Linked DNA regions of Homo sapiens: regions 1, 2 and 4 are each linked to region 3. The links come from fine-mapping of genetic effects on gene expression. A gene starts in region 3. Each other region holds a variant in brackets. All regions are shown on one strand. Distances are from middle to middle.

Region 1 (8,102 bases), 53 kb after region 3:
CATAGGAGATTTATCACAAATTTCCCAATCAAGATTCAGCCTCATAGAAGTGAGCCTCCTGAGTGAGACTCTGTGGCTCCTAAGTGGGGAATCTAGGGCTCGAACCCAGGTCTTGCTGATCCCATGTTTTTCTCACCATCACTGGATACTTCCTTCTTATGCAAGGAGAGAAATGCAAATTCTACAAAAGAAAAATGGGCTTGTGGTCTAGACAAGCATCTTGGTTAATGTCTGAGGGTCATGTTAAAAGCTTAGAAAGTTAGTTTTGTCTGCTGGGCATGGTGGCTCATGCCTGTAATCCCACTACCTTGGGAGGCCGAGGCGGGCGGATCACCTGAGGTCAAGAGTTCGAGACCAGTCTGGCCAACATGGTGAAACCCTGGCTCTACTAAAAATACAAAATTAGGTGGGCATGGTGTCATGTGCTTGTAATCCCAGCTACTCAGGAGGCTGAGGCAAGAGAATCGCTTGAACCCAGGAGGCAGAGGTTGCAGTGAGCTGAGATTGCACCATTGCACTCCAGCCTGGGCAAAAAGAGCGAAATTCAAAAAAAAAAAATTGGTTTTGTGATGGCAGCTGTTGCTAATCAGGGTATGGAGTCAGGAGCTTAGGTCTAGGGTTGAGCTCAGATCTCGACATGGACCAGGCTTTTCCCCTGTCTCAGTGCCTCATTTATGGTTCAGTTTCAGGCAGCAAAACTAATGAATGATTTCCAACCACAGAAGCCGTCACTGGGAGAGCCAATAAAGATACGACAGATCTGGCAGGAGAACAAGATCCAGCCCAGGTGATGGGGTGTGAGGCTTGGTCTTAGCTACAGGTAGGTCGTTTCCCTTAGCTCCTGGATGACTCAGCTTGGCAGCCACCCAGACTTCTATCAGGACCCAGAGGTGCTGCCAGCTCTGGAGCCATGTCAGGCCAGCTTTCTCCCCATGTCACCAGGGAATGGAGATTTTTCTGGTCTGCTGGGGCTTTTCCTAATTCTGCACGGTCGGCTTGAGACTGTCCACCTGTTGCTCCATCTAGGCTGCGTTGCCCTTATGAGCCGTCTTCACAAGGTACGTTTGGAGGATGTCAGGATGTCTTTCAAAGGATTTGTAGACATGCTTTAAAGTACTTACGGAGTCAATGTCCCCTTTGCTTCAAGCTTCTCTCCTACTGTAGGAAATAATGTCTACGGTGGCCCATTTCCAAGGCAAAGTGCCTCAAATAGGCTTGGGCCCACAACCTGCGGATGGACAGGATATACTAGACCCCTGCTGGTCAGGGCCCCCTTAGTTACCCCCACCCAAAGCAAAGCGTTTAGTCTAGAATGAAAGTTTACTAGCCTGAAAAATAGCTCACTTTATCTATTCTTATCAGCTTGCCTGGCCACCTGGGTCATAAGTCAAATACTTGAAGAGCACCTTAGCTGACTATGATTGCAGTGCATTATGGGCCACAACAAACTGCAGCGAGACAACCCTAAAGTAAACACCTAAAAGCCCCAACCCAACGACCAATAGGTGATGTCTGGGAAGATGGTGACCCCATGGTACTCAGCCTATGAGGAACCGGGGGAGGGACTTGCCTACTAGGGGATACATTGCTTGTTGTAACTGTACTGGGTGTGCCTGCCTACCAGACACCAGATCTTGCAAGACTGTCATTAAAAGTCTCACTTCTGGCTGGGCGCAGTGGCTCATGCCTGTAATCCCAGACTTTGGGAGGCCAAGGCAGGCAGATCCCCTGAAGTCGGGAGTTCAAGACCAGCCTGACTAACATGGAGAAACCCCCATCTCTACTAAAAAAAAACAAAAACAAAGAAAAAACCTACAAAATTAGCTGGGCATGGTGGTGCATGCCTGTAATCCCAGCTACTCGGGAGGCTAAGGCAGGAGAATCACTTGAACCCAGGAGGCGGAGGTTGCGGTGAGCCGAGATGGAACCATTGCACTCCAGCCTGAGTGACAAGAGTGAAACTCTGTCACAAAACAAAACAAAAACAAAACAACAACAACAACACAAGTCTCACCTCTGCAATTCTCTATGTCTCTAAGTTCATCCTTTGGGTTTGGACAGGTGAGCATGTTTCTCATATTACCCACACTGGTGGGCCCCGTAGGCTTCCTGGTTGGTCCAGGAGTGGATGCCTGATGCAGGCTGCACAAATCAGATTCTCTCTTCTGGAGATTTAGAATCGAGAACCAGTGGTTATCATAGGTTAGCCTTGGCTGTCAGACCTGGAAGGTGAGGAGACCCAGAGCTGAGGGTGCCCTTTTGGGACAGGTGTCAAATCCTTGTACAAACAGAGAAACCAGACTGACAAGGGGGTAGGATGAAGGAGCTGAAGGAGAAGCAGAGCCACAGAGGACCGGGCAGAGAGAGGGGCTGCCTTGGTGGGGACAGCCTGTAGACAGCGCCAACGACGTGGGGCTGGTGCTGTCCCCACTGTGGTCTCAAACACCAGACTAGTGCCCGGTCAGCACAGAGTTCAGGACAGTGGTGCAGCTGACACCCAGAAAGACACCGCAGTGGAAAGCCTGGCCTGACGCTCCCAGCTCTCTCCCTGCCATGCACTGACTCCATGTCCTGTGAGGAGGAGGTGGGAGGAGAGTTTTATTAGGGGAATTCATTTGTAATAATTGCCTAAGTATTTGCTACTTAGGAGAACATGGATCTGCAAAGGGTCCATGACCCTTTGAGTCAGAGTTTCACTCTTGTTGCCCAGGCTGGAGTGCAATGGCGTGATCTCGGCTCACTGCAACCTCCGCCTCCCAGGTTCAAGTGATTCTCATGCCTCAGCCTCCCAAGTAGCTGGGACTACAGGGGCACACCACCATGCAAGGCTAATTTTTGTATTTTAGTAGAGACGGGGTTTCACCATGTCGGCCAGGCTGGTCTCAAATTCCTGACCTCAAGTGATCCGCCTGTCTCGGCCTCCCAAAGTGCTGGGATTACAGGCATGAGCCACCACAGCTGGCCTGCAAGGGGTATTTTTAGGTGTTAGAAGCATCTCGAGGCATCCTTTCTCAACGTTTCACACCACAGACCACTGAATGGGCATTTGGCACATTCATAGATCATCAATTGTAATTCAAAAAAAAGTAGAGTTTCATCAATGATTTTAAATTTAAAGAGAGTGTTTGAAACATTAATTATGTTCTCATATCCATGAGATCTTCATTTCTTTCTTCCTCTCTCTCCCTCCCTTCCTCCTTCCTCTCCTCCCTCCTCCTTTCTTCCCTCCCTCCCTTCTCTCCTTCCCTTCCTCTCCTCCCTCCTCCTTTCTTCCCTCCCTCCCTTCTCTCCTTCCCTTCCTCTGCTCCCTCCTCCTTTCTTCCCTCCCTCCTTTCTCTCCTTCCCTTCCTCTGCTCCCTCCTCCTTTCTTCCCTCACTCCCTTCTCTCCTTTTTGCTGCTGCTTTGCTGTTTGCTGCCATCAGGGCAGGGGTGGAGCAGTAAGTGGGTTCCACCCCCAGCCACACCGTGATTGGCTCAGGAGTGGACACGTGCCCTGAGCCAGTCTAATCCATGCTAACCTCAGGACCTTCCTGGGAATTGTGGGAGACAGAGACTCTCTGTTGGTCCAGATAGGTGGGGCGTACTGTGGGCTTGGCGCTGCTGTAACAATTTTTCTACCACAGGAGACGCTGGTCTGAAAAGAAGGCAACGCAAGGAAGAGAACAGAGCCAAGGCACCTGCAGCGAGCCAGAGCCAGAGCCCTGACATCACAAATGCTTTAATTGGTTCCATTTATTGTTTAATCCACTTGAAATTGAATTTCTGTCATCCCCGACTGGAAGTGTACTGACCTGCATACTACCTGTGTTTCCTCACAGCAGGCTGAAAAGCTGTGCCAATATTGAGCTCATCCAGAATTAGACGAAGTTTGTATTCTTTTTATTACTTCCTTTAACCCTGAATCAGGGTCCAGAAGCATTTTGTTGACCATTAACTCTTCTCTGTGAATAAAGCAGCATGAGGAACAACCTCTTTTATTCACAGAGCAAAGCTCTTCGCTGCTCAGCCACAGCGGCTTCAACTCTGGCACGGGTCCTGAAGTGCCATTTCTAGCACATGACTCACAAAGTAAATAATCTGTAAATGAAAAGCCTCTTATCATACTTTGGCACGAAAAACAAAGCGACAAGCCAGGCAGCATTTTTCCCTCATATTTGAACCCCACATGCACCAAGGGCTGTTTTATGCCTTGCACATGAGGAGTTTGGTTTGCTCAAAAGCAAAGTATTGGCTAACATGTGTGTGCACTAGTAATTGCATTTCTGCTTTGTGTGCTCTGTTATCTGATAGAGGAGCTTTGTCAATATCCTTTGGATCTCTCTCCAAGCACAGTCTTCATTATGATCTGTGAGCTGATTTACGGTCTTCTTGGCAATTTTACGACTGATATCTAGGTGCATTTGCTAAGAGGACAGCAATTTAGAATGATGTTTCTGTAGCTTTAGTCTCCTCCGCACCTTTAATAAGAAGAATAATCAATTTTACATTAGAAAGTTATTTTGTGCTTATTCTGGAAAAATGGAATTGGTTGCTTTTTCTAAAGATAATGAGAAACACTTTTTATGGCTCCAGACTACTATATATCAGCATTTTCATTTTAACAGTAATATATCGAGGACTAGGGGCAAATGGATTGCTTGTCCAATAAATGAAATGTTCAAGTATTCCTCACTGAACTTAGACTCACAATTTTCATTTATGGTTGCATGTGTAAAATCACCACTCAAGAACTTGTTTGTCCTTGAATATATAGTTTTGTATTTCCATAGTTATATTGCAGAACCATTTACTCATTATGTTTACAGTGCCCTTCTGAGGATTTAT[G/A]CTGCCATTTTCATCATTACTTTGCATTTTATAGAACCTCTTTTTAGTCATTGATCCATTTTGGTGAATTGGAGATACAGTGTGACATATCTACTACAATAACCATGAAAATTAAAAAATAACAGACATAAACTATAACTTGCAAGCGAGAAGCCCTATGTGAATATGATTTATTAATACTTTGTTTTAAGTCTCTTTCCCCTGGTTCTCACCTATTGAAGCTTTTTGCTTTTCTGTCAGCCAAGAGGTGCCAGGTAGGTAAGGAGCATACTGGGTAACTGTGTACTCCGTGCCCAGGCCTACTCATGCCTCTGTGGGCTGGGCACTGATGCAAACTTCTGCCAGGCATGGCCCTCTTAAGTGGACAGGGGATAGAAAAATAACCTAGAAATGATGACAAATGTGGCTTCTTTCCAATGATCACATCTCTTCCCTTTTCCTTGGCTTACTTATTGGTTCAGACCTTCACAAAGAAGTTGACCAAGTGCAGTGACAGGATGATGTGCTGGTCATCATCCTGTCGCTACACTGAAACATCCCTTTCTCCCTTTTTGGGCCCATGGTGGAGTCAGGCTTTCCCGCATCATTGAGGTTAGGTGTGAACACGTGATTTGCTTTGGCCAATGAAATGGGAGTGAAAGTGACACATCCCTGCCAGGTACAAGCTTTAACGGCCAGGGAACAACGTGCGTCATCACTGCCTTGACCCTGTGGTCAATGTTCCAGACAGGGGTCTGTGTCAGCCTGTGTCCCTTAGTGAGGACTGGGTATAGACTGCCCCTCTCCACTTCATGGATATTTAACTTAAGCAAGAAAAAGGCTTCATGAACTTAGGCCACTGAGATCATGGAGGTTTGTTCCTGTAGCATAACCCAGCCTCTTCTGTCCAAAACAAGTGGGTACACAAATCCAAAAAGGACAGAAATCCCTTTGCCCAGTTCCCTTCCTGAGAGCTGACACTGACTGGCACCCAGCCTCAGCCCCAAGCCCAGGGCCCTCGTTTATAGACACTCATCTGTGTCCAAGTTTTGTTCTTCTAGTTGCCATTCTTCCATTTTCTCTTTGCCAGTAACACACAAAAAATGAGAGATTTTCTCAGTATTGGTATGGATTTTCAATTAACAACAACAAAAACAACAAAATACTCCCAATATAATAATTCTTTTTTTTTTTTTTTGAAACAGGTTTTCGCTCTGGTCACCCAGGCTGGAGTGCAGTGGTGTGAACTCAGCTCACTGCAACCTCTGCCTCCCAGATTCAAGTGATTCTCCTGCCTCAGCCTCCCAAGTAGCTGGGATTACAGATGTGTACCACCACACCTGGCTAATTTTTGTATTTTTAGTAGAGACGGCGTTTCGCCATGTTGGCCAGGCTGGTCTCGAACTCCTGACCTCAGGCGATCTACCTGCCTCGGCCTTCCAAAGCGCTGGGATTACAGGTGTGAGCCACTGCGCCCAGCCTCCCAATAGGAGTGTTTAAAAACACTCATTTTTAAAAACGAGGCCGGGCGTGGTGGCTCACACCTGTAATCCCAGCACTTTGGGAGGCTGAGACGGGCGGATCACCCGAGGTCAGGAGTTCAAGATCAGTCTGGCCAACATGGCGAAACTCTGTCTCTACTAAAAATACAAAAATGAGCCGGGCGTGGTGGCAGGTGCCTGTAATCCCAGCTACTCAGGAGGCTGAGTCAGGAGAATCGCTTGAACCCAGGAGGCAGACGTTGCAGTGAGCCGTGATCACACCACTGCACTCCACTGTGGGCGACAGAGTGAGACTCTGTCTCAAAAATAAATAAATAAATAGAAACTAGAGTGTTGGGTCTAAGGGCGACAGTGGTAATTAAAACACAAAGATCAACGCACTGTTCAAAGATTCCCAGTGCGCGGCGCTGCTAGAGTCGCTGAGTCCTCACAACCCCGGCTCGTGGCGCGAGCCTGGTGCCACCCGGGCGGTGGTGGGAGTGTCGCGGCCCGGGGTGGGTGGGATTCAGGCTGCCGGGGGCGGGGGGGGGGGTTGCCGCAGAGGGGGCTGGGGAGGGCGGCACCCCCCCATTGCCCGTCCTGGGCCCTGCGTCCCCTGGCGGGCTGCGGCCAGAGCAGATGGCAGCACCGGCGCTGGAGGTGGCAGATCCCCGGGGAATGAGCAGCGGGATAGATCACTGGCTGCAGGGCAGGGGGCGCTGTGAGTCGCCCTGGCCGAGCTGTCGGAGAGGAGATTACTTAGCAGCTGGTAGTGAAAGGAGACGCCTGGGCAGATTGGAGCAGAACGGAGACTCAAAGCCGGGACTGGGGTGCCTGTTCTCACAGTCACTGACCCCCACCTGTTCGAAGACTGGCAAGATTCTGTGAATATGGGGGAGGAAGAGCCAATGATTCCCAGCAGAAGACGCAAGATTCTCCAGTGTCATAAACTGGATAGTATATGCAGAGTATGTGGAAAATGCTAGCTGGGTTGTTCCCCAAGCAATGCAAACACCATCGTCCCTTCCCTCCAAACCATGCCTTGTTTGTACCAAGGACTGCACAGAACTTGGAGTGTCACCGAGTGACAGAAAAAGGACCCAACACGGCGCAACCGCTCAGCCCGAGAGGCGGGTGTATTGTCGTCAACCAACATCTGAATGACGCTTGCAAACTGAATTTGCCGTGCAGGGTTTCCAACAGCAGGCATGTTTTCCAGATGCTTTGAAATCCTCTTTTAAAAAAGTGAATAAGAGGCCAGGCGCAGTGGCTCACACCTGTAATCCCAGCACTTTGGGAGGCCGAGGCGGGCAGATCACGAGGTCAGGAGTTCGAGACCTGTTTGACCAACATGGTGAAACCCTGTCTCTACTAAAAACACAAAAATTAGCCAGGTGTAGTGGCCCGCGCCTGTAATTCCAGCTACTCAAGGGGCTGAGGTAGAAGAATTGCTTGAACCTGGGAGGCAGAGGTTGCAGTGAGCCGAGATCATACCACTGCACTCCAGCCTGTGTGACAGAGTGAGATTCTGTCTCAAAATAAAATAAAATAAAAAAGTATACAAGGCTGGCTGAAGTGGCTCATGCCTGTAATCCCAGCCCATTGGGAGGCCGAGATGGGTGGATCACCTGAGGTCAGGAGTTCGAGACCAGCCTGGCCAACATGAGGAAACCCTGTCGCTACTGAAAATACAAACGATTAGCCAGGTGTGGTCGTGGCACCTGTAATTCCAGCTACTTGGGAGGCTGAGGCAGGAGAATTGCTTGAACCCAGGAGGGAGAGGTTGCAGTGAGCTGAGATCGTGCCACTGCACTCCA
Region 2 (8,102 bases), 59 kb before region 3:
CAATAAAAAAATAAATTAAAAAAAAAAATTTTATCTGCTTGTCCTATAAGTTACTGAGAGAAGTGTGTTAAAATATTCCATTTAGTCAACTCTTGTTTTGCACTTGTTAAATTTTCCTTTTGGTTCTGCCAATTTTTTGTTTTGTTTTGGTTTGGTTTTTTTTTGAGACTGAGTTTCGCTCTGTCCAGCCCAGGCTGGAGTGTAGTGGCATGATCTTGGCTCATTGCAACCTCTGCCTCCCAGGGTGAAACGACTCCCATGCCTCAGCCTCCCAAATAGCTGGGATTACAGGCACCTGCCACAATGCTCAGCTAATTTTTGTGTTTTTAGTTGAGACGGGGTTTTGCCATGTTAGTCAGCCTGGTCTCGAACTCCTGACCTCAGATGATTCATCTGCCTTGCCTCCCAAAGTTCTGGGATTACAGGTGTGAGCCACCGCGCCCAGACTTGGTTCTGCCAATTTTTACTTTATATGTTATGAAGCTATGTTCATATGTGCATACAAATTTAAAACCATCATACCGTCCTAAGAGATTGATTCTTTACCATCATGAAATGTCCTTTTTATTTTTAGCAATGCTTCTTGCCCTTAAGTCTACTTTAATATAGCTATACCAACTTCCTTTGAAGTAATGTTTGCATGCTATATATTTTCTATCCTTTTAATTTCAATCTTTCTATGTAGTTTTTTTTAAACCCAGATTGACACTATTTGGAATACGTATCTTTTTATATTTAGTGCAATTACTAATTTACATTAAAATTGTTTAAATCAGCCCACTTACTATTTATTTTCTATTTGTCCTTTCCTTTGGGAGTCCCTTTTTTCTCCCCTTTTTGGGCCTTTTTTGAATTATTTTTATATTCTTGGTAGCTTGTTAGTTACATACTCTTTTGCAATCCTTTAATGATTACTGTAGGAAAATATAACATTGATCCTGGACGTATTAGAGTTTAATATAAAATTAATACTTTTGCTACTTCCAGGACAATGTAAGGACATTAGAATATTTTAATTGCATTCACCTCTTCCCAATTTTTGTTTTTATTGTCATGAATCGTAAAACTCACAAGACGTACTTGCTTTTATTTTCAATCAACATTAAGTAAGATTTATCCACATATGTACCCTTTCTGTTGTTCTTCACTGGAATCACCACGCTTCCTTCAGGGATCATTTTCCTGCTCCCTAAAGCACTTCCTTTTGTGAAGTTCTGTTGACGACAAAAAACACCAGTGATAAGTCCTCTTAGTTCTTTCTTTGTCTGAAAATATCGTTATTTCATCTCCATTTCTGAAGGATGTTTTCACTGTCTCTAGAGTTCCAGGGTGGCAGTAATTTCCTTTCTGCACTTTGCAGATATTGGTTTATTGTCTTCCTTTCTCCATTCCTTCTGTTGAAAAGTTAGCTTTCAGTCTTGCTACTGCTCCTTGAAAGGTAATGCATCTTTTTCCTTTGGATGCTTTTAAGATTTTTCTCTTTGTGTTTGATTTACAAATGTTTCACTATTTACAACTGTTTCACTATTAGGGGCCTAGTTGTAGTTTTCTTTTCATGCTTGGGGTTCCCTGAGATTCTTGAATCTGTGGCTTAATGTCTTTCAACAGATTTGGGAAAATTCTTAGATGGTCTCTATTAAAACATTATTTCCGGCCAGGTGTGGTGGCAGGAGTTCAAGACCAGCCTGACCAATATGGTGAAACCCCATCTCTACTAAAAATACAAAAATTAGCCAGGTGTGGTGGCAGGTGCCTGTAATCTCAGCTACTTGGGAGGCTGAGGCAGGAGAATCACTTGAACCTGGGGGGCAGAGGTTGCAGTGAGCCAAGATCATGCCACTGCACTCCAGCCTGGGTGACAGAGTGAGACTCTGTCTCAAAACAAAACAAAACAAAAAAACCATTATTTCCGCCCTAATTGTGCTGTTTACTTCTTCTGGGTCTCCTTACATGTTAGATCTTTTCACTATGTCCCATATTAATCTTTATACCCTTTTCTGCACTTTTCATTCTTTTCTCTCAGTCTTTATTCTGGGTAATTTCTTTTGGTCTTTCTAATAGAGTTCACTTCAGCTGTATCTAATCTGCTGTTAAATCTATTTATTGAGTTCATAAGTTCGTTTAATGTATTTTTCAGTTCTATCATTTCCATTTGATTCTTTTTTACAGTTTACAATCCTCTGTTGAAATTCTTCCATTTGTCATCTAAAGTCCTGAATAGGCTTCCCTGTATTCCCAGCACTTTGGGAGGACAAGGCAGGAGGATCCTTTGAGCCCAGAAGTTCAAGACCAGCCTAAGCAACATGGTGAAACCCCATCTTTACAAAAAATACAAAAATTAGCCAGGTGCAGTGTTGCACACCTGCAGTCCCAGCTACTCAGGTGGCTGAAGTGGGATGATCCCTTGAGCCTGGGAGCTGGAGGTTGCAGTGAGCCGAGATGGAGCCACTCCAGCCTTGGGGGAAGAGTGAGACACTGTCTCAAAAAAAAGCCCTGAATATATTAATGATAATTATTTTCAAGTCTATGTCTCATAACACCACTATCTGGATAACAGGCCCATCATGGCCTGTTTTAAATGAAACATTTTATTTCAAAATAATTGTAGACTCACTCAGTTGTAAGAAATAACACAGAGAGAGCCCATGTACCCTTTACCCAGCTTCCCTTAATGGTAACATCCTATGAGAGTATAGTACAACATCACAACCAGGATATTAACATTGATACTGTCTTATTTAGGTTTCCCTAGTTTTACTTGTGGTCGTGTGTGTCTGTATATGTGTGTGTGTGTAATGTGTGTGTGTTTGTGTATGTTTGTGTGTATGTGTGTGCATGTGTGTGTATGTGTTTGTATGTGTGTATGTGCATGTGTGTGTGTTTGTGTGTGAGTGTTTGTATGTGTGTATGTTTGTGCATGTGTGGGTATGTGTATGTGCATATGTGCATGAGCATGTGTATATATGTGTGTAATGTGTGTGTATGTGTATGTGTGTGCGTGTGTGTGCATGTGTGTATATATGTGTGTATTTGTGTATATTTGTGGGTATATATGTATGTGTGTGTATGTGTGTGTGTGAGATTTAATTGTAGGCAATTTTATCACATGTGTAGGTCTAGTGGCCTTAAAAAAATTTTTTTCCCCCGTCTGGATTTTCAGTCATTCTGTTTCATTTCCAGATATGTCGGGTAATTTTTTTTTTATTGAATGCCAAACTTTGTGTAACAAAAATATAATGTGAGAGTTTGGATGGCGTTGTTCTCTTCCTCCAGAGAATTTACTTGGCTTCTGGCAAGCTGTTGGTGAAGAGGCAGACACCTTAATTCAATCAATGAATGGGATGCTTGGAAACTGCCATTCTGTGTGTGGGAGGGCTGGACTTTTTCCCTACTCAGAGTGTGTAACCCACTAAAAGCCTGGGTCATTTACCAGAGCTCCTCATCCTAAACTTCAGTTTTTAGCTGGAAGCTCTAGTTCTCATTGTCGTGTAATTTCTTGAAGATATTAACTGGCTGCTCAACTTAGCGATTTGTTGTTAGTGGATAGGGGCCATAAGAGGAAGGCTGCTGCCCCAGAATCCAGGCTCACCTCTCTGAACTTCTCTTCTTCCTGGGATCTTTGTCCCTCAACTCTGACTTGTCTTGATACCTCTCCAATGCCTTCCTTGGATGCCTTCTTTTATTTTTTTTGAGATGGATTCTCACTCTGTTGCCCAGGCTGGAGTGCAATGGCATGACCTCGGCTCACTGCAGCCTCCATTTCCCGGGTTCAAGTGATTCTCCTGCCTCAGCCTCCCGAGTAACTGGGATTACAGGCACGCACCATCATGCCCAGCTAATTTTTGTATTTTTAGTAGAGACAGGGTTTCACCATGTTGGTTAGGCTGGTCTTGAACTCCTGGCCTCAAGTGATCTGCCTGCCTTGGCCTCCCAAAGTGCTGGGATTACAGGTGTGAGCCACTGTACCTGCCTTTTCCTTGGATGTCTTAAATATGTTCTGTCTTTCTAGGTTTTCTCAGTGGGAAAGCTGGTCTGCAACAGAAATCTGCACCAGCCTTTGTTTCTCACACGAATATTTTGACATCCTTGAGGGACTAAGGGGAACCCCTTAATTACAGACCATATTGTGCAGCATTTGGGTGCTTGTTCAGGAGTCAGACTGGATTAAATTCTAGTGTTGCAGCTGGGCGTGACGGCTCACACTTGTAATCCCAGCACTTTGGGAGGCCGAGGTGGGTGGATCACCTGAGGTCAGGAGTTCAAGACCAGCCTGGCCAACATGGTGAAACCCCATCTCTACTAAAAATACAAAAATTAGCTGGGCGTGGTGGTGGGCACCTGTAATCCAGGCTACTTGGGAGGCTGAGGCAGGAGAATTGCTTGAACCTGGGAGGTGGAGGTTGGAGGCTGCAGTGAGCCGAGATCACTGCACTCCAGCCTGGGCAATGGGCAACAAGAGTGAAACTCTGTCTCAAAATAAATAAATAAATAAAAATAAAAATCTAGTGTTGTCACTTCCCAGCCATGTGATCTTGGGGAAGTCTCCCTCTCTGGGCCTCAGTTTTCTTATGGAAC[T/C]TGCCTCCTTGGATTAAATAAACTAATATATGTCAAGTACTCAGAGAACTGAGTTCCTGTCATATAAAAGCACTCAATATATACCAGTTATTAGTATTCAGCAAATCAGTGTTAAACACCTACTCTGTGCCAGGGCACTGGATCTATATGGTGGTGAAAAAGACAAATACAGTCCCTTCCCTCGTAGAGCTGACAGTTTATTCAGGAGGACACTCTGGTGACTTATCATAGGAAGTTAGTAAAATACCATTGTCAAAGAGAGACTCATACTGTGGTGAGAATGAAAAAGGATGATAGAGCAGGGTACCCTGGCAGGTTTGGTTCCAGGTTGAGCAGGGAGGGCTTGGTTCCCAGGTCTGCGGTAATAGAGGGTATGTGGCAAATGACAGAGAGCGACCAGGCAGCTACTTATGGCCAGGTGGTCAGCAAACACATCTGTGATTGCTGCATGACAGCTGAGACTTGGATGATCAAAAGGAGCAAGTCCACTGAGACCTGGGGAAGGAACATTCCAGGTTGAGAGAATGACACATGCAGGTTATCTGAATCTGGCACGTTTGAGGGGCAGCAAGAAGGCCAGTGTGTCCTGGAGTGGAATGAGCAGAGGGGAGAGAGTGACCACATAAAATCCAGGAGGTGGGCAGGGACAGGATCCCAGAGGGCTTTGAGAGTCACCACGAGGGCGTGGATTTTAGTTTAAGCGAACTGGGAAGCTTTGGAGAGTCTTGTCTTGTCTTGTCTTTTCCTTTTCTCTTTTCTTTTTTCTTTTCTTTTCTTTTCTATTTTTTTTCTTTCTTTTCTCTTCTCTTCTCTTCTCTTCTCTTCTCTTCTCTTCTCTTCTCTTTTCTTTTCAACAGAGTCTTGGCTATGTTGCCCAGGCTGGACTGCAATCTCCGCCTCCTGGGTTCAAGCAATTCTCCTGCTTCAGCCTACTGAGTAGCTGGGCTTACAGGCACCTGCCACCATGCCCAGCTAATTTTTGTATTTTTAATAGAGACGGGGTTTCACTGTGTTGGCCAGGCTGGTCTCAAACTCCTGACCTCAGGTGATCCACCTGCCTTGGCCTTCCAAAGTGCTGGGATTACAGGCGTGAGCCACCATGCCCGGGCTGCTTTGGAGTTTTACAGAGGGGAGTGACAATATTTTGATTGCAACATGATCATTGTAGGTGTCATAAGGAGAACTAATTCTTTTTTTAAGAGTCCCACTCTGTGACTCAGGCTGGAGTATAGTGGAACAATCAGGGCTCACTGTAGCCTCTATCTCCCAGACTCAAGTGATCCTCCCGCCTCAGCCTCCAGAGTAGCTAGAACTACAGGTGTGCACCACCACGCCCAGCTAATTAAAAAAAAAAAAAAATTTTGTGGAGACAGGATCTCATTCTGTTGCCTAGGCTGGTCTTGAATTCCTCGGCTCAAGCAATCCTCCTGCCCGACCTCCCAAAGTGTTGGGATTACAGGGGTGAGTTACTATTGCACCCGGCCAGAGAATGGATTTTAAGAGAGGAAACTGCATTTTTAAGAGACAATGGTGGCTTGGAACAGAGTGGTAGCAGAGTGGAAAGGAGTGAACGTGGGTTGAGATATGGGTTAGTAGTTGAGTCAATGGGCGATGGATTGAATAGATGGGCAATAGAAAGAGAGAAGTCAATGAGCAACCGGAATTGAGCCTATTTATTTGAGCCTATTTATTGAGAAGGGGGTGAGTGGGGTAGGGAGAGGAAGATCAAGTGCTTAGTTTTGGATACCTACATTTTGAGACTCCTATTGGGTAACCTGGATATGCAAATGTGGAGTTCAGGGAAAAATCTAGGAGGGAGTCAAAGCCATGGGCTTGGATGAGATTTCCTAGGGAGAGCATCTAGGTAGAAAGAATAAAGAGACCCAGAACTGCGCCCTGGGGTAGTGCAGCATTTAGGGACCAGGGAGATGAGGAGGCACCAGAAGGAGTCCTAGTAGGAACCGCCAGTGAAATAGAGCAGTAGTTCTCAAAGTGTGGTCCCAGGACCAGCAGCCATAGCATCATCTGGCGCTTGTTAGAGAAGCAGACGATTGGGCCCCACCCCAGATCTACTGCCTCAGAACCTCCAGGGTGGAGCCCAGAGGTCAGCGACCAGTGCTTTAACTCGCTCCAGGCGATTGTAATGCAGGCTACAATTTGAGAACCACTGAGGTGAAAGACAAACCAGGAGAGGGTGTGTTTTGGAAGGCAAGAGGATACATTTTTCAAGAAGGAAGGAGTATGTTAGATGCAGCTGAGAGTGTGGCTAAGACAATGGCAGAGGCCTGGCCATTGGATTTTGTAACGTGGACGTTATTGTTGGCCTGGACAGGTAAGACTTCGGTGGAGTGGGGGTGTGGGGGGAACAGCAGCCTCATGGGAACTGGACAAGATGTGAATGAAAGTGGGATGAAGTGGCATCAAAACTGTAGACCTGGCTGACTGTGGTGGCTCACGCCTGTAATCCCAGTACTTTGGGAGGCCAAGGCAGGAGGATTATTTTGAGCTCAGGAGTTTGAGACCAGCCTGGCCAACATGGCGAAACCCCGTCTCTACTAAAAATATAAAAATTAGCCGGGTGTGGTGGCACATGCCTGTAATCCCAGCTCCTCGGGAGACTGAGGCAGGAGAATCGCTTGAACCCGGGAGGCAGAGGTTGCAGTGGGCCAAGATGGTGCCACTGCACTCCAGTCTGGGTGACAAAGTGAGACTCCATCTCAAAAACAAAAACAAAACACCCAAAACCCCCAAAAAACTGTAGACCCACTGTCTAGCAAAGGGTTAACTCAGCAGGCTTGGGCTGATGGAACCCTGTGCATTCCAAAGAAAGGACTGGGCCTGGAGCAGCTCCCCAGCAGGTAACTTCTAAACCCTTGGAAGGTCCTGCCTGATGAGACTATCTTTGTTTACCTTGGGCCATGCCAGATAATTTATGCTGACAAAGTCTTTTATGCCAAATGCCCTTGGTCACACTGTATCAGTTTGACCTCTGGAGAGGGTCCTGAGACTGAGTAGTTAAGGTCAGTCATACGGGTGCTCCATTACATAACCATCCCCCAGTATAGACCCTGGACACCAAGACTGGGGTGAGCTTCCCTGATGGACAAGTCTCTTGTGTGTGTGTCACACATCATTGCTGAGAGAATGAAGTGCTCTCCGTAGGACTTTGGGAAAGAACAACTGGAATCCTGCTCCTGGTCTGTCCTGGATTCCACCCTATATGCCTTTCTCCTTGGCTAATTTGCATCTGTATCTTTTCAATGTAATAAACCGTAACCATGAGTTTAGCAGCTTTTCTGAGTTCTGTGAGTCTTTCCAGTGAATCATCAAACCTGTGGGTGGTCTTGGGGACCCCTGATACTCCTGATTTTTCAAGAGGTTTTGCAGTGAAAGGAGAAAAGGAATGAGTGACAGCTGCAGGAGGTATTGGCCCAAGATGGGGATTCTGTGTAAGAGAGGAGATACTGGGGCAGACGTGGAGGCCCATTGAAATGACAAAGTAGATAAGGATAGGTTGGTAATGCAGG
Region 3 (8,100 bases):
AGCCCTAAGTAGAGCCTCTCAGCCAGCGATCCCGAGATCATTTAAGATAATCACTGGTCTTCATGACCTCGACTTAGAAAAGGAAACAGAGGTTCAGAGATGAAGCAATTTGCCTCTGACTCCAAGGTCAGAGTCAGGACACCCTTGTCCAGGCCCAATTCCAAAACTGTGTTTTTTCTATCACCCACCACCTCTGTTAGCTCCACAGAGGGCCCTGGGCCACTCCATGGCTGCCCTTGCTGACACGGAGGAGTGTCGACAATTGGGACACAGTGTCGGGAGGGCAGCCGTTTGCTCAGAAGCCCCTGCTAAACCCCTGCTCTGTGGCAGATCCAGCCCAAGTGGGGACTCCTCCACGGACTCATTCGTGGTGACAGAAAGGAGGAGGTGGGTCCTCCCTGCTCCCCCGCACCAAGTCCTGCTGAGCCACCATGTCCCCAATGCCCCGTACTCTCTCGCCTTTGAGCAGGCTGACCTCCGGCTCCAGCCTGTCTCCTCAGCTGGCCAGCACCTCAGCCACCATACTTCCCTGGATGGGTCTCATTTACTTGTCTGCCCAGTGCCTGGCTCAGAGTGAACTGGTACCAATGCATCCCAAAGCCTGGGCTGGAACCCAACCCGGTCAGACGTGAGTTTGGTGGGGACAGGCCTAGAAGTGGGCCCGACCACTGCCTATTCTCTGTGCCAAGATGGTCTGGGGCAGGATGATGGTGCAGAGGTCGTGGGCAGCCAGGAATACTGCCCCAGGCTCCCAGGCCTGTCCTTCCAGCTGTCCTTCCAGGCATGAAATCTCTTTAAAGCCACAGGGCTCTCAAGAGACCCCAGGTTCCGGTCCAACCCACCCGTTGTCAGATGCCACTAAATGGAGAGAGGCTAAGGGACTCCTAAGGCGATGTAAGCTGTCTGCATGGCCAGTCCTTTCTTTACTAAGGAAGGTACTGAGGCACCAGGCACCAGTTGCTTGGGGTTACAGCTGCACACGCACAGACTCTCCCCTGGAGAGCTGCCCTATCACAGGGAGGACGGTGGGCAGTGGGAATATGAAGTGATTTCGTGCAGCGAAAGAACCACAGAGCCCAGAGAAGCACAGACCCCAGGCTTGGAGAATGAAACATCAAAGCCCGGCCCTGACACCTAAGTAGGAAAAAGTCCTGGTCCTTACTGAGCCCTGACTGCACCCCAGACAGTTCCAGAGGCTGCGGTGGCCTGCTAAGACAGACAGATGGTAGAGGCAGAGAGTCCTCTGGGCAAGATCCCAGTGGTGTGAGAAGATGGCGAGGAGTCACAGGACTGAAAGCAAGGGCTGGGGACAGAGGCTGGGGTGTGTGTGGGGTGCCACAAGGGGCGTGGGTTTTAGAGATCCTACTGGGGCAGGGAGGCTTGTTAGGTGATGGCTGCCCTCAATCTAGGTGGGAGATGGTTGGGACCGAGAAGAAGGCCATGTCCCCACGGTTGGTCTGTGAGGTCCATGAGGGTGGGATCTGTTGTGAGGTCTCTCTACCTCCCACTCCCCACAGCATTGGATGCTTAACTAGTACCTGGAGGTAGCCCATATGCCTCTCAGACAAGACTAGATTACCATTTGATCACAACTCTCAGGAGAGATGTTTGCTGGCTTATTTGTTGGCTAAGCAAGGATGTCTTCATTTAGAACGTGGCGTTCACCCCCATGGGAGAAGGGACTGTGACTCCACGTGGTCCTCCCAGCCCAGGCTGGGGCCTCCTGGGGCTGCTTGGTTAACAGTCCCTTCCGCCACTAGGTGGCAGCACATGAAGCCGGGCCTGCCCATGCCAATGCTGCCAGCCCAGCTCCCAGGGATTGGGCCCCTCAGACCCCTTCCCACACAAAGGCAGGGAAAAGCCCAGGCTTTTTTGGCGTGGTAAGCAGACATTCTGCAGGTGCATCCCCACACTTTCTGACTCTCAGAAAGTGTTTACTCCCTCTGCAAACTGCCTGAGCTTCCTGACTTCTGAAATTATGCTTCCAAGAGTCCAGTGGTGACGGACTGTTCCTGGGGGAGGGGCAGAGTGTGGGCAAATGGCAGGCCCGGAAAGAAACCCTGGCTCAGTGAGTCTCCTTTCCTTATCTGCTGAACCATCACAGGGCCTACTACGGGCACTCCTATGATGATCAGAGAGTACATGGCACCTGCTCAGCACAGTGCCTGGCACGCAGCAAATAACTGAACAGACCTACCCATGGGTGGTGGACTTATAAGCAGTGATCTTTTTCCAATGTATGCTTGGCATACATTGACATTTCTTACTTTATACTTTCTATATATTATTATTTTTTAAAGGGTTTACCCTTCCTCTTCCTCCCCACATGGAGAACTCTTTGAAAGTGGGACCTGGGTCTGCCTGATGAATTAAAAATAACTGTAGCCAACATGCTTATTGCACCCTGACCAGGTGACAGGCATAGCTCTGTGGGCTTGGCAAGCACCGTAGATGGTGTGAAGGTTTAAGCACCTGAACTCTACCATGGCCTCTCCCCATGTCTGTGGGCAAGTTACTGGACACCTCTGGCCCTGTTTCCCCATGCGTGAAACAGGGAGGATGGAAGCTATCTCATGGGCTCCTGTTTGCTTCAGAGTAGTTCCTGGCAGAAAGCGCTGAGTGTAATTTGCTGACTCTGCCATACTGCCTCTCAGGGAGCCCCAGAACAATGTGTTCAGCCCAAGCTAATCTCCATAGCCCCTCACAAACATCCACATCACTCTCAGGCTACCTGTTTCTTAGGGTCCAGATAAAAAAGTCCTACTATCTGTGTCTCTATCCCCTGCCACGCCAACTCTGCAGCCTTCATAGTTTCCTGTGTGTGTCTGCCTTCCCCCTTTAACCTGACATGGACTACTCAAGGCACAAGATGAAGAAAAGGAGACAGGATGAAGCCAGGAAGCTGGACCTCGGGTAAGTCACTTTCCCTTCCTGGGCCTTGATTTTTTATCTGTGAAATGGGGATAATACTCCTTACTTCTTGGAACTGTTGAAAGAATTAAAGGAGATAATCCATGTGGGGGCTCAGCCCTGTATTAGGCCCACAGCCAGCTCAGGAACCAAAAGAACTATCAAGAAAAAAAGGCGTTCTGTGTATCAATGCTCATGGTCATACTCGCTTCGCCGCTAGAGGGTGCCCCAGCTGCACTGAGAGGCTGTCACACAGCCCACCAGCCTTCCAGCTGCTCCGCCCATCCCTCCCCAAGAGAAGCATCAGGGTTAAGGTTACTCCCTGGATCCCCTAGGATGTGCGTCGCTTGAGGGTGGGGGTTATAAAAATATGAAATTCTGGAAACCAACATTTCTTTCACTTCTGCTTCTCTTCTCCGAAAAAGAGTCCTCCCACAAAGTCACCGGCTGTCGGGTGGGAGGGGGCCCTGAGGCATCCGTAGCACTACAGGAAGACAGGGGGCCCACTGAGTCCCACCTGCAGCCGTGCCTGCCACCTAGGGCCATCTTGCCCTTCCTTTCCCAGACTCTGTTTTTCCTTGTCAAAATAAAATAAAAACCCAAATCCTCCAAGATGGCTTCCTCTGGAAGTTCTTCCCTCCCTAGCAGAGACTAATATGCTATGCTCTCACTCCCACATCCCCATCCCCCAGAAATGGCCGGGAGTGGGGGGAAACTGAGGCTCAGAGCCCTAAAGTTAGTGGCCCAGCCTGGGTGATAAATTCAAAGTAAAATGATTTGAGGTCAAATTCAAGTTGGATCCCCAAGAAAGGAGGGGAGCCATGAAGAACAAATCCTGAAAGACTGAACGGGGGAAGCTGGGGGCAGGGAGGCAGGTGGTCCCCCAAATCCTCTCCTTGTGCCCTGCCAGGAGGTGGGACCCCACTCACTCTCCCCCTGGGTTCCAACTCCCAGCACAGTCATAACAGCTCAAACAAATGCCCCCTTCCCATGGGCATCCCCCACCTGCCTCAGCCACCCCCTTTCCTGGAGCCCTAAAGGCATCCCCAGCCCCTGGTTTCAACAGGGAGGATTATCCCCAGTCCCAAAACCCTCTTGTTGAAGCTGATGCTGGCTGAGGCCTGCCATCAGGGGCTTCTGGGGGGGCTCACAACCACCCCCTGCCCAGCTGGGGCCCCTCTGAAAAGGCCGGCCCGCTTGGGCGGCCGCGTATCTGTCCCTCCCTTCCAGGCCCCGTGCTGTGCCGGGGCTGGGGGCCCGAGAGGGGGATGCTGCTGGGGCTGGGCCAGGTTACCTTCAGGAGGAAAGTTTTGGGTTTGGGTCCCCTCTTCTTGGGCCCATACAGCTCACGCTCCCTCTCCCTGCGGCCGAAAAACACCAGAGGTTAAAAAGAGCCCCTTCCCGGGCCCCACTCCGCGCTGCCCTCCCCGGCTCTCCCGCTTCCCCGCGCGGCGCCCCAGCCGAGCCTCGGCCTCGCAGCCCCTGCCAGCTTCCCCAACAACTCACTTTTGTTCGAAGGCTGCAATGAGCCGCGAGTCCAGGATGTTCTCCTCGGGCTCCCAAGTGCTGTACCTGCCGAGTCACAAACGCACAAAATCAGGATGAAGACCAGAGAGGGACAGGCACGCGGCGAGAGCAAGAGCGCGCACCCCCACCCCAGGCCCCGGTGCCCGCTGCCTCCCCTCCCGCGACGCCCCCGGACCCCGCGACACTCACTTGATCGCCCACCCCTTCCATTTCACCAGGTACTCGATGCGTCCCTGAAAAACAGAGGGGAGAAAAACGGGGGTGGGGGTGGGGAGGATGCGGGGACGCGAGGAGGCGGCGGCGCGGGGCTGGGCGAGGGAGCCGGGCTAGCGGGACCGCTTCGCCCCGAGGGCCCCCGGCCCCGGCCCCGGCTGCGGACAGCGGCGGCCCGCCCCGGGCGGCGGCTCACCTTTCGGATCCGCCGTTTGATGATGGATTCGGCCGCGAAGACCCGCTCGCCCACTGCAGACAGCTCCATCTTGCTCAGCGGCACCCACAGCCCATAATACTCCCTGCGCCCGCGGCCGGTGCGGCACCGCTCGCGCACGCGCCGCAGCGCCCAGGCCCCGGCGGGCGGGAGCGCGGCGGGGCGCGCGCTCGCGTTCCAGCTGCGGGCCGTCACGTGATCCTCGCGGCTGGCGCGCGGTTGCCAGGACCTCCCCCTCCCCCGGGGCGGTTGCTAGGGAAAGTCGGCGCTCGCGGGGCGGGGGCGCGCGCTGGCTCTTAAAGGGGCCGCGCGGGCGGAGGGAGCAATTGCCGGCCGACCCGATGGGTGCCCGGCTTGTGGGCACGCTGCGGCCTTACGCTTATCACCCCCCCTCACATCTTGCCGGCGCCCGATCGCTGACACCCTCTCCTTGCCTCTTAATCCCCACGCGAGTCTCGCCAGGCCCCGGGCGGAGAAGGGCTGTGGAGCCCGAGTCTCGCCGCCACCGCGCATCTCCCGCAGCAGCCTGCAAACAGTTAAATATGATGCAGCAGAAATGCAGTTGCTGTTGCCTTGCCAGGCCTTGCGGGAATTTCTTTAAAACATCGCCCCCCACCCATTATTTATGTATTCGTGGGAGGGTGGTTTTGTAACCAGTTCAGAAGAGTTAAAACAAAAACGCCACCGCAGGAAGGGGGTGTGCGGCGAATGGGGCCGAGGAAGGCCGGAGTGACCGTGGGCATCTGTCTGCGGCCGGGGTCTCGGGCGGCACCTGTCCTCGCCCAGGAGACCGGGGAGGATTCGGCGGGGCCGGTGTGGCAGTGGGGGAGGGAGAGGGACCGCGGGCAGGAACGGGCTCCCCGCACTCCGCCTTGGGCCCACAGCGGGTCATCATCTGGTCATTCGGCAGAAACCGCCTTCGCGGTCATATCTGTGTTTTCCGATTCCCAGCACCCCTCCCGGCCCCCCGACCTGGCCGCGTCCCTCTCCCCGCCCGCAGCTGCGCGAAGCTTCCGCCATTGCTCTGGGGAGCCCAGATCCCAGCTTCCCACTTGAGGAGGGGCGGGGGATCGAGCTGGGGCTGTCCAGGAACGGACACACAAAAAATAGCCCTGCCGCGCAAAACGCTCCACTTTTTAAATGTTGAAATTACTTGAACTTTATTTCCCATTATGTTAGTAGTCTTGTTCTTTGTAAAACAATTTTAAAAATACAGATAAAACAACTGTCCATAACCCCCATAAAACCATTGTTAACATCTTCACCAATCTTCCAGCCTCTGCTCTATGCGTACATAAACTCACGTACACCTATGTATGTATGTATATACATACACATACACATTGTCTGTAGATTTAATTTTTTAACAAAATGGGATCACGCTATTCACACTGTTCTGGAATCTGCTTTTCTCCCTTAATGCTATAAAGTGGACATCTTTCAGTGTCATTAAATACAGATTTCACCATCCTTCCAGTGACCACCTTGGGGCTGAGATGGGGTGGGGAGGAATGGGGATTGTGAAGAGTCAGGGTTGTGTCTTGCGAACATCAATGGCTCATTAGGAAAGATTTTTGCGTTTCTGTGCTACAATGCCAATTCTTGGGTTTCAAATCCACCATAGCAAAATGTTAGTCTTTTTCTCCCAGCAGATTTGTCCAATTATTACCTTGAGAGAAATCCCTCTCCTCACTTAAAATCAGTATGTTCCAGGGAAACAGCTATTTGCTGGCCAGCCCAAGGTGAGCTGCTGTGGTAAAAATAGAAATGTCCTCCTGGGAGATGTGGGTGGTGGTGGGTGAGCAGGTGAGAGGAGTGGGTATGACAGTGTGTGTGTGTTCAGGCTGACGGAGACAGGCGGGGGATGAAGCAGGTGAGTCCACTTGTTGATTCATTCAGCAGTGTTTGTGAGCCCTTGTGAAGCACCAGGCTTTGTGTGAAACCATCAGGAAACAAAGGTGCCCCAGGCTGAGGAGCTGTCAGTGGAGTGAGAACGGCACCTGTCACACAGTGTGACTAATGCTAGAATAAAGGTGTAGGAGTTTCGTGTTGCTGCTCTCACAAATTAACACAAGCTCAGTGGCTTAAAATGACTCACATTTGTTATCTGATGACTCTGGAGGCGGGAAGTCCCAAATCAGTGTTACTGGGCCCAAGTGAAGGTATCCTCAGGGCTGGTCCCTTTTTGGAGGGTCAAGGAGAGTATCTGTTCCGTGCCTCATCCAGCTTCCAAATGTTGCTGGCATTTCTTGGCTCATGGCTTCATCACTCAAATCTCTGTTTCCACGATCCCTTTGCTCACTTCCTGCTTCTTTCTTTCTTTTGTTTTTGTTTTTGAGATGGAGTCTTGCTCAGTCACCCAGGTGGGAGTGCAGTGGCACAATCTCGGCTCACTGCAACCTCTGCCTCCCGGTTTCAAACAATTCTCCCAGTCTCAGCCTCCCAAGTAGCTGGGATTACAGGCATGCGTCACCACACCCGGCTAATTTTTGTATTTAGTAGAGATGGGGGTTTCACCATGTTAGCCAGGCTGGTCTCGAACTCCTGACCTCAAGTAATCCACCCGCCTCAGCCTCCCAAAGTACTGGGATTACAGGCGTGAGCCACCGCACCTGGCTTCTGCCTCTTTCTTTTAACAACACTTGTGATTACATTGGGTCTGCCCAAATAATTGAGAATGATCTTTCCGTCTCAACCTCAACTTAATCAGATTTGCAAAGACCCTCTTACCATAGGGTAACATGGATGGTAAGTAAGGTATCCTATCCACAGGTTCTGGGGGCTAGGGGCTAGGACACGGACATCTTTCGGGGAGGCATTATAAGCCTGCCACAAGAGTCTGTACAGGATGTCTTGGGAGTGGACATAGGGGAGCAACCTACCACGTGGAGGTGAGGCTGTGAGGGCTTCTCAGAGGTGGAGACCTCTGATTTGGGGCCGGAAAGACAAATGGGAATTGGCCTACAAGTGAAGAATGGGAAGGGTGTCCCGGGTGGAGGTGTCAACTTGAACAAGCACATCAGAGCCTGAGAGTGTGTTTTGGGGATGGGAAAGAAGTCTGCTATGGCATGGGTTGGGGCAGTACGGCAAAGGATGGCAATGGAAAGATGGGTTGGACTGAACTTGGGAAGGGCCTTGAATGCTGGGTAGGTTTGGACTTTGTCTCAGGCAGTGGGAAGCGTGAGGGAGTTTTGAGTAGAGGAGGGATGTGATGAGATGAAGTGGGAATTCGGGCA
Region 4 (8,102 bases), 82 kb after region 3:
TGATTGTTTTAATTGGCTTTGAAGCTACACTTCTAAAATAAAATGTTAAGAATCTTCCATAATTTGTTAGGTAATTGTACCATGAATTGCAAGTGTGTAAATAAACACTAGGAAATGAATAAATGTCATTCCTTTTGGAGTGGACCTTCATGTGGGGCAAAAGTCACACTAACTCCTTCTGGGATGAGAAAACACAGCTAACCCTTCCGGGACAAGCACCTGAATTCAAACTCTGACCTCACTCACAGAGCTCCCCACTGCTGGCCAGCCCTGGCCGGAACGGACAGGCCAGGCAATAAGAGGAGAGCCAGCGGGGAGTCTCCCTGTTGGAAAGGAGCCACACGTGTAGTCAGGGGGCCTTGGGAGCAGCCCTGTTCCCACCCCTTCCGGATTCCACCCACTAGAGAGGGAGCCCAGGTGGGAAGGGTTCCACATGGAGGATGGACTCTGCCCCTGGACAGCAGCCCCCACTTCCCAACCTCAGCCATGGTGGGCACTGGTGCTCTCTTGCCTTTCCATCTGCAGAGCCTGAAGCCCCTGGGTCCAGCCTCCCGGCCCTGGTCACCCTGGACGACAGGATTGTCCAGAAAGGGCAGCCTTCCCCAGGTCTCCCCTTGGCAAACTTCTGCTCACATATCTGGGGCCAAACTGTGCCACAACGTTGACAGTGACTATATGGGCCTGGGGGAAAATAATTATTTAGTGGAGGGGATTAGAAGCAGCAGTGAGAGGGGATGGCGCAGGAGGGCAGGAAGAAGTCTGGCAGCCGTTTAGGCCCGAAGGGAAGAGCTAGTAGACTCAGATCCATGGAGAGATGGAAGGAAAGGAGAAGAGAGGAGGGAGGAGAGGGGCAGGGCAGGGCTGCAGGCAACTGCGGGAGGACAGGAGGCAGTGGACACGAAGGAGCCAGGAGGACAGGGGCGTGGGAACAGAGGGAGCTGGAGGGAGGTCTGTGGCTGTGGGGACCAGCAGAGCTGCCTGAGGGGCTGAGTAGGGTTCGGTCATTACATACAACAAGATCCAGGCCTGCGACCACGCTCAGGATCCAGGCTCTGCCCCCACATCTGCTCCTGCAGACGCAGCTCTCCTGCTGGTCACCTGGTGGCCCCCAGAGGGATGGCTGGCCATCTCCAGGCACTGGGCCTCATCCCAGGGAGGAAGAAAGAGGTCGTGGCTAAGCTGTGAGTGAGCCCCAGGGGACAGGGGGCCTGGGCCCTTGGAAGGTGGGGTTCTGGGGGACGGTGGTCCGGTCTCCCTGAGACCCGCCCTGTGACATGACTAACTGTGGGGTTCTTTCACCAGGGTGAGCCCCTCTTGCCTCCCTTACACTGGCCCCTTTGCCCAGAATGACTGCACAATTTTTATCACTTACTTCCAATGAGTGGAGTCAGGGCTGTTATCAAACCCAGAGACACAAGCAAAGGGCAGGGCGTCACGTGGGGGTGGTGAAGGCTTCTCTGGGGACCCTTCAAGCCTGGCTGCCATGAGGTGCCAGGGCAGGAAGCACACTGTCCTTCCTTAAGCTCCCACAGTGTGCCCAGCCCTTGATGGAAGTCTCAATTTAATTATAAATGCAGGCTTGAGGTTGCCAGTATCAATCATCTACCCAACTAATCTATAAACGAGTGCAATCACATTTAAAATGTTGATAGGGCTTTACTGGAACCTGACAAGCTGGTCATTGCATTCAGAGGACTTGGATCCACTCATTTGATTTTGAAAACTACGAGAGATAAAGAGAGTTAAGGTAGAAAATGTCAATACATGGCTGGGCATGGTGGCTCATGCCTGTAATCCCAGCACTTTGGGAGGCTGAGGCAGGCAGATCACCTGAGGTCAGGAGTTCAAGACCAGCCTGGTCAACATGGTGAAACCCTGTCTCTACTAAAAATACAAAAATTAGCTGGGTGTGGTGGTGCACGCCTGTAGTTCCCAGCTACTCAGGAGGCTGAGGCAGGAGAATCGTTTGAACCCGAGAGGCAGAGGTTGCAGTGAGCTGAGATCACATGACTGTACTCCAGCCTGGGTGACAGAACAAGACTCTTGTCTCAAAAAAAGAAAAGAAAAGTCCATACTATTTTAAAGCTATAACAATTGGAAGAGTGAGCTGTACAAAGTCTCAATACAGTTATAAAGCTATAACATTCAGAAGGGTGTGTGTAGGAGGGTGGACGGGTGCTCAGAAGGAAGCTCTAAAGCCACAAGGAGAAATTTCACCCCCTTTGGACTGGACATGGGCTGGGCTCTGGCAAATTGCACAATGCAAGGTGCTGACATTATTGCCCACTAGGTCACATTGCCTAAGAGTAGCAATTTATAAAATCTCATTAGAGAGTGCCTGTGTAAATTCTTTATTTCTGGGCCACCCGTGTACTTCCTCATTAGTAAGGAGGAGAATTAGGTGAAGCTCATGGTTGTGGATTGCTGCAGTTTGCACAGACTTTACAAAAAGAGCTTCAGCTGGTGTCCTGCCCCTCTAGGGCACTCACTGGGGCTTTCACGCTGGCATTGGAAAAGTGGGCATCGGCAAGTTCCGTGGCTGAAGAGGAAAAAGAAAAGCAAGCTTTCACCCGCCCTGGGTGAACTGTGAATTCTAAAGTGTGTCCCCAGGAATATTGGGAGACCTCAGCAGTTTACACTTGGTGGGTTGAACAGGGTTTGTTAGTATGAATTATTCATCCAATATTGAACACCTACCTGTGCACAGCACGCTTGCCTAGTGAAGAGAGCAGGGCTGCTGTTCCTGCTCTGTGCCCGGGTGGGAGGCAGACACAGGGGCTGTCATGGGAGAAGCTGGGCTCAAACAGCCCATGAAAAGGGACCCATGCACAGGCACAAAAGCCCCGAGGAAGAAGCCAGCTTGGTGCACTCGACGGAGCATCACCCACTTGGCTCAACAAATGTGTGGTGGTATGTGCATGTGTGTGTGTGTGTGCATGTGTGTCTCACACATGCGTATTTATCTACATATGCAAGAGGATAGGAAGAAATACAGGAAAACACTTTTGTAATCTTGTGGTTGAGAAAGCTGGCATAAACAAGGCACACAATGCCAGACACTATGGCCTTCAGGCCTCCCTGCCACGGGGATGCTGCCTTTTCTGCTCCGGGTGTTTCCACGAGGCAGGCATGGAATCTTCCCTGGACAAGCGACATACCGTGGAGAGACAGGTAAGAATTTCTACACATAGGAAGGGTGGAGCAGCCATGGTCTTAGATGTGAGCCCAAGGGAAGACAGCCTGATATATTTTACTGGGCCATATTTGAAATTTCTGCACAGCGGAAGACACCATACAGTAAACACAGGAGCCTGCGAGAGAACCTCTGCCGAGCACCAGTGAACGGCCAAGTGACACGAGTGACACCATGAGCTTGGTGCCCTCTCCATCCCAAGCCAGAGGCGGAAGCCAGGCCCTTCCTCCCAGCCCAGACTCCTACATCCCAAACTTGAGCCATGGCACACATGCTGGGCACTTACTCTGTGCATAGCAGAGGGAGCTGAGCTGCATCCAGAAACAGACCTAGGAGCTCACAGACCCAAGGCCTGGGTCTCCACCCCTGGAAGAGGGTGGTGCCGAGAGCAGGGCCCCCGGCTGTCACTGGCCCGGAGCTCACCGTGCAGGGGCAGCCCAGGCCCTCCGGGGATGGCACTGGGGTGTCGGAGGCCAAGGAGCAGAAACAGCTGTGGATGCTTCCCTCGGAGGACTGGGTGGGGCCGGGACCACCAGGACCTGCCCACCACCTTCTCTATGGGGCATCTGGCTGTGTCTGGGAGTATCTTGTGGAAGGGTCCTTTTTACCATGTGGGATCGGTGGTCCAGACTTGTCTGGGAGCCAAGGATACCAGGCATGTCAAGTAGGCTCTTCCAGAAGGTTTTCCCTCCTGGGATGTCTGTGTCTCTGCCCCTCTCCTGCTGCCTGCATCAGGAAGGGAGGGAGCAGATGGGCTGGTGAAGTGAGCAATGTCAGTCACATGCATGGACTGTCCAGGGCTCATTCTGTGCTGAGGGTCCTCCCGTGAATACGTGGCTCACCAGCGTCCCACCCCATAGAGAAGGTGGGGGGCTGGCCCTGGCAGCCAGGGCTGGAGTGGGAGGAGGTTGACCAGGAGCATGGGGGTGAGGGAGAAAGAGAGAGGGACCCCACTGTGCTGCCCTAGCACAAGGGACACTGGTCTTCCTGATTCCTGGCCTTCCACGAGGTGGGACGCCCCTCCTTCTCTGGGCTCCTTCTCTGCCCCGCGGGGTGGTGGATGCAGTAGGGACCTTCCACCTCAGGACCTCAGGAGCCGCATATGTGGTACACAGTGGGCCTCCTCGACAGCTGCTCATGAGCAAACAGGCCCAACTCCTTCTGGTGGCAAAGACACAGACACACACAGACACATAAGCACACACAGACAGTGACAGGACAGAAAGGAACCTTCCCCGGGGTTTCCCAGACACACCCAGATGTCTACCTCAGCTCTGCCCCAAGTCAGAGGATTGCAGCAATTCTTACCGTGAAGAGTGCTGGGGAAACCACGTCATCAACCCC[G/A]ATCCTCTCGTTTTCATTTCTGGGTTCTGACAACAGCCCCAGCTCCACCCCTTGAAACAAGTGACCGAAAAATGGACAACATGTAGTCACTCTGGGCAAAGAGGCCACCCCAGTGGGGGTATGGGGGACAGAGGGCCCCACCCTGGGAGGACAGCACTGTCCCCTGTCCAAGGGCAGGTGCAGCCACCTCCTCCACCTCCCTATTCCCCCCACCCTTTGTCCCCCCCGCCCCCCCGAGCTTGGCCCCTTTGCTTGGAGAGATCCTTTGGTTTTTTCGATCACTTGCTTCTAGGCTGAGGAGGGCGGGGCTGTTGTCAGAGCCCAGAATCAAAGCCAGAGGAGCAGGTGGACGCTGAGACTGTCCCCTCACCCTGCTCCACGGGCAATGTTGAAGTGGGCATCTGGGTGTGTCTGGGGTATCCCAAGGAAGGGTCCTTTTCGTCATGTCACTCTGTTGGGGGCGGGGCACAGGAGCAGGGAGCCCTTTCTCTCCCGAGCTCCTCAGACTCCCAGCTTCCCTGGGTCTCATCTCAGAGCTTTGCCTATGACCTGGGAGCCCTGTGGGTCCAGGGGAGGGGACTGGACGCAGCCCCATGACAATGCTCAGACCTGGGCTAGGAACTGGAAGCCTGTGGTTCCTCTGGGCTGTAGGGGTTGGGGCCCCACAGTGATGGCAGAGCCAGGACCTCATACACAGCAGCATGGACTCCAGACCCGAGCGGGACCTCCGTTCTGGTCCCAGGGTGACCTGGGCTGAGTGGCCCAGCAATCAGGGACCACTTCAGGGTCCCTCTGCACTGGTCTGTCCCTCTCACCCAGTCTGGACCCCTGTGGGGCACTTGCCCTGTCCCCAGTTTTCCTTACAGGGGACCTGGGCAAAGCCCAGGGAAGCTTGCACCTGTTAAGGAGGCCATTCTCCTGCCTCCCCCTTGGGGATCCAGTTTCTTTCTCTCGCCTTGGACCTTCCCCAGGATCCTATGGAAACTCCAGCAAGACCTGGTATTTTATCACATTTTCACAGTTATCGCATTGATTGTTCAGCCAACATTCCAGGGACAGAAATGGGGGAGGGGCTGTCCTTCCCCAGGAAAGGGTGGAATCTCCTTCCGTCTTCCTTACAGTTGGCCTAGGGAAGGTGCACACTCTTAACCACCCCTGGGTTCCCCTGATGCCTTGAAGACCCTGCCTTGCCCTGGCTGCAGGGGGACCAGGAAGGGGCCAGTTGTGTCTGGGACATTCCTGCCGGGAGAGAGTCAGGCCCTAGTGCACAGAAGGATGTGGGTGTGGTCGGTGGGGGCACTGGCAGGGGGTAGGGCACATAAGTCCCTGGGGAGCTCACTCAGAGGTTCCAGGTTGTGGCCCTTATGGAAGTTCCTGGGTCCAGGGGCTAGAGTGAGACTGTTCCCCGCTCATGTCTGGGCTGCAGACGCCCAACCAGTGGCTCCCCCTGTCCACCCTTGGCAAGGGAGGGTCCTGGCCTCCCTCTCTGCTAGTGGGGACCCCCCAACACCCTGTCTTCTCTCCTCTCTGGAGCTCTGCCTGGGTGCATGGCTTGTACAGTGAGTTACTGAGAATTGAACTCTGGACAGTAGCTGGGCCCCACTTTGCTTTAAACATTTTAGTCTGAGGCCTTCTTTGTCATCAGATGAGAAGGTTCACAGATGTGCAGATGTGCTGATAGTCTAACCTGACTGGTTTGTAAAACTAGAAAGAGAAACAGACAATGTGCCTGTTTCTGTGATGGGCCATAAAGTGGATCTTACAGATTTGGAGACATTCTGGAAGATCTGGACCTGTCTGGATCAGAGAGGGGAGGCAGGCATGGGCCAGTCATGAATCCAGTGGGGCTTGGGCCAGCTGGGGCAGCAGGGAGGAGGACGTGCCCAGGGTGGGTGAGCTGGGGAGACCCTGGAACCCAAGGCTGAGGACCCAGAGCCAGGAGATGCAGGAGACGCCCCAGGGATGCTGAACAAAGCGCTGTCCCCTGTTGCAGCTCTCCTGGGTCTCCCCATAGAAAGCTCATGTGGGGGCTGTCCTGACCATGGGTCCAGGGGTGTATTTGCTCCAGGGGCATTTGATGCATTATTGAGCCAGGGGAAAGGCCATCACACTCTGGGCAGCAGGAGCCACCGGGAAGGGTTGGGGAAGGGTTGGATCCTCCCAAAGTTGGTACAAGTGTGGTCTCTGGCCCAGGTGGGCTGTGGGTACTGCGGGGCGTCCAGCTGTGCATGCCTCTGGTGTGAACTGGGAAGGGTGGCCTCTGGTCAGACTCACACAACACACCAAGATGAGCTCACACCAGAACCACCTGAGACTCAAATGGCAGTTGACTGCCCCCAGGGGACATCTTCTTGACTAGAAGAGTCCAACATCTGGAGACAGAATGGGAGGGGTCCTCACGGCAGAGAACAGGGCCTCTTCTAGTCTGTGGCGCCCACCAAAATGGCAGGGACACTGTGCTGAGGTGGGAGGATTGCTGGCCAAAGACAGGGGGGTCTAGTAAGAGCCAGAACAGGGGAGCAGGCAGGACAGGGGACAGCCCCTGGGCCCACAGGGCCAGCACCTTCCAGGGGCAGCTGTGCTGGGTGTAGCAGGTGGACCTGGGAAAGGACGGCGCCAGACCTGCCGCCAGGACTCAGGGGCTCACTTGGGGCAGGAGCACAGTGTCCCTCACATTTCTGCAGGGCCCAGAGGTGGGAGAAAGGGCACAGGGTGGCCCTTCTGACAGGGGGGTGGGGGTGTGTCCCTGCTGGGGACTCTGTTTCCTGGGAGGGCCTGGATCTCTAGGTACCTTTCAGAGCCTTTAGCATCTCCTCTGGGTAATGGGGATGAAAACACTCCTCCCTCTAGTTTACAATTATTAGATACACTGATGCATAGGAGGATGCAGGACCTGCTGGTCTCCCATCTTCACAGCCAGGGAAGAAGATGCAGGACCCTAACAGAGAGCACAGGATGCAGCAGGTGCCAGGGAGCCTGGACCAGGCACATCCTGCACTGGCCACAGGGGAGGACACAGGGGTGGCTGTCCTGGAGCCTGCTCTCTGGACCGCTGAGTGTTATTCAGGGTCTTTCTCCAGGGTGTGGACACCTGTCTTCTCACCTGCCCCCTGGTCTCCTGCCTTCCAGATTCCTGTGGCCCACAGGGAGCAAAGTGTGGCCAGCTCTACATCCCCATTGTCACTCCACAGTGTCTGGTGGTTCAGTGGTCAGAGTGGGCACATCAAAACCAAAGCTTGCCCAGAGGCATGGCAGAGAACTTCCTTGTTCTGACGCTAATGAGGGTGGCACACTCGGCCTGAGCTGGAGAAGGGGTGGGGCAGGGTATCGCTGACTCAGCAGCTTCCAGGTTGCTCTGATGATATATTAAGGCTCCTGAATCCTAAGAGAATGTTGGTGAAGATCTTAACACCACGCCTTGAGCAAGTCGCAAGAGCGGGAGGACACAGACCAGGAACCGAGAAGGGACAAGCACATGGAAGCCAGCCCAGCATCCGGGCCCAGGTATGGGAAGCCCCTCCGAGCACCTCTGCGCCTCAGCCTCCTCTTTGAGCTTTTCTGATGA

The links.
Region 1: its variant is fine-mapped to the expression of CBX6 in whole blood (TOPMed, PIP 0.96).
Region 2: its variant is fine-mapped to the expression of CBX6 in T cells (GENCORD, PIP 0.95).
Region 4: its variant is fine-mapped to the expression of CBX6 in whole blood (TOPMed, PIP above 0.99).

What each region holds. Positions count from the first base shown.
Region 1 is chr22:38,920,493-38,928,594 of GRCh38, forward strand. It overlaps LOC105373032 (a long non-coding RNA gene), which reads left to right. Exons shown (of 3, transcript XR_938256.2): 2 at 684-1,058; 3 at 3,625-5,967. Among named protein-coding and RNA genes, the nearest start is that of APOBEC3A, 33 kb to the right of the region's middle. The variant G/A (reference allele first, on the strand shown) is at 4,826.
Region 2 is chr22:38,808,529-38,816,630 of GRCh38, forward strand. No RefSeq gene overlaps it. Among named protein-coding and RNA genes, the nearest start is that of DNAL4, 18 kb to the left of the region's middle. The variant T/C (reference allele first, on the strand shown) is at 4,576.
Region 3 is chr22:38,867,276-38,875,375 of GRCh38, forward strand. CBX6 (chromobox 6) reads right to left here and starts at 4,941. Exons shown (of 5, transcript NM_014292.5): 1 at 4,847-4,941; 2 at 4,627-4,670; 3 at 4,417-4,482; 4 at 4,205-4,271. The coding sequence starts at 4,915. RefSeq lists silencers at 4,563-4,612, 4,713-4,862, 4,893-5,152 and enhancers at 5,147-5,697, 5,698-6,247, 6,084-7,283, 7,100-7,279.
Region 4 is chr22:38,949,680-38,957,781 of GRCh38, forward strand. APOBEC3A (apolipoprotein B mRNA editing enzyme catalytic subunit 3A) reads left to right here and starts at 7,930. Exons shown (of 5, transcript NM_145699.4): 1 at 7,930-8,041. The coding sequence starts at 8,013. RefSeq lists enhancers at 1-776, 4,643-5,522. The variant G/A (reference allele first, on the strand shown) is at 4,538.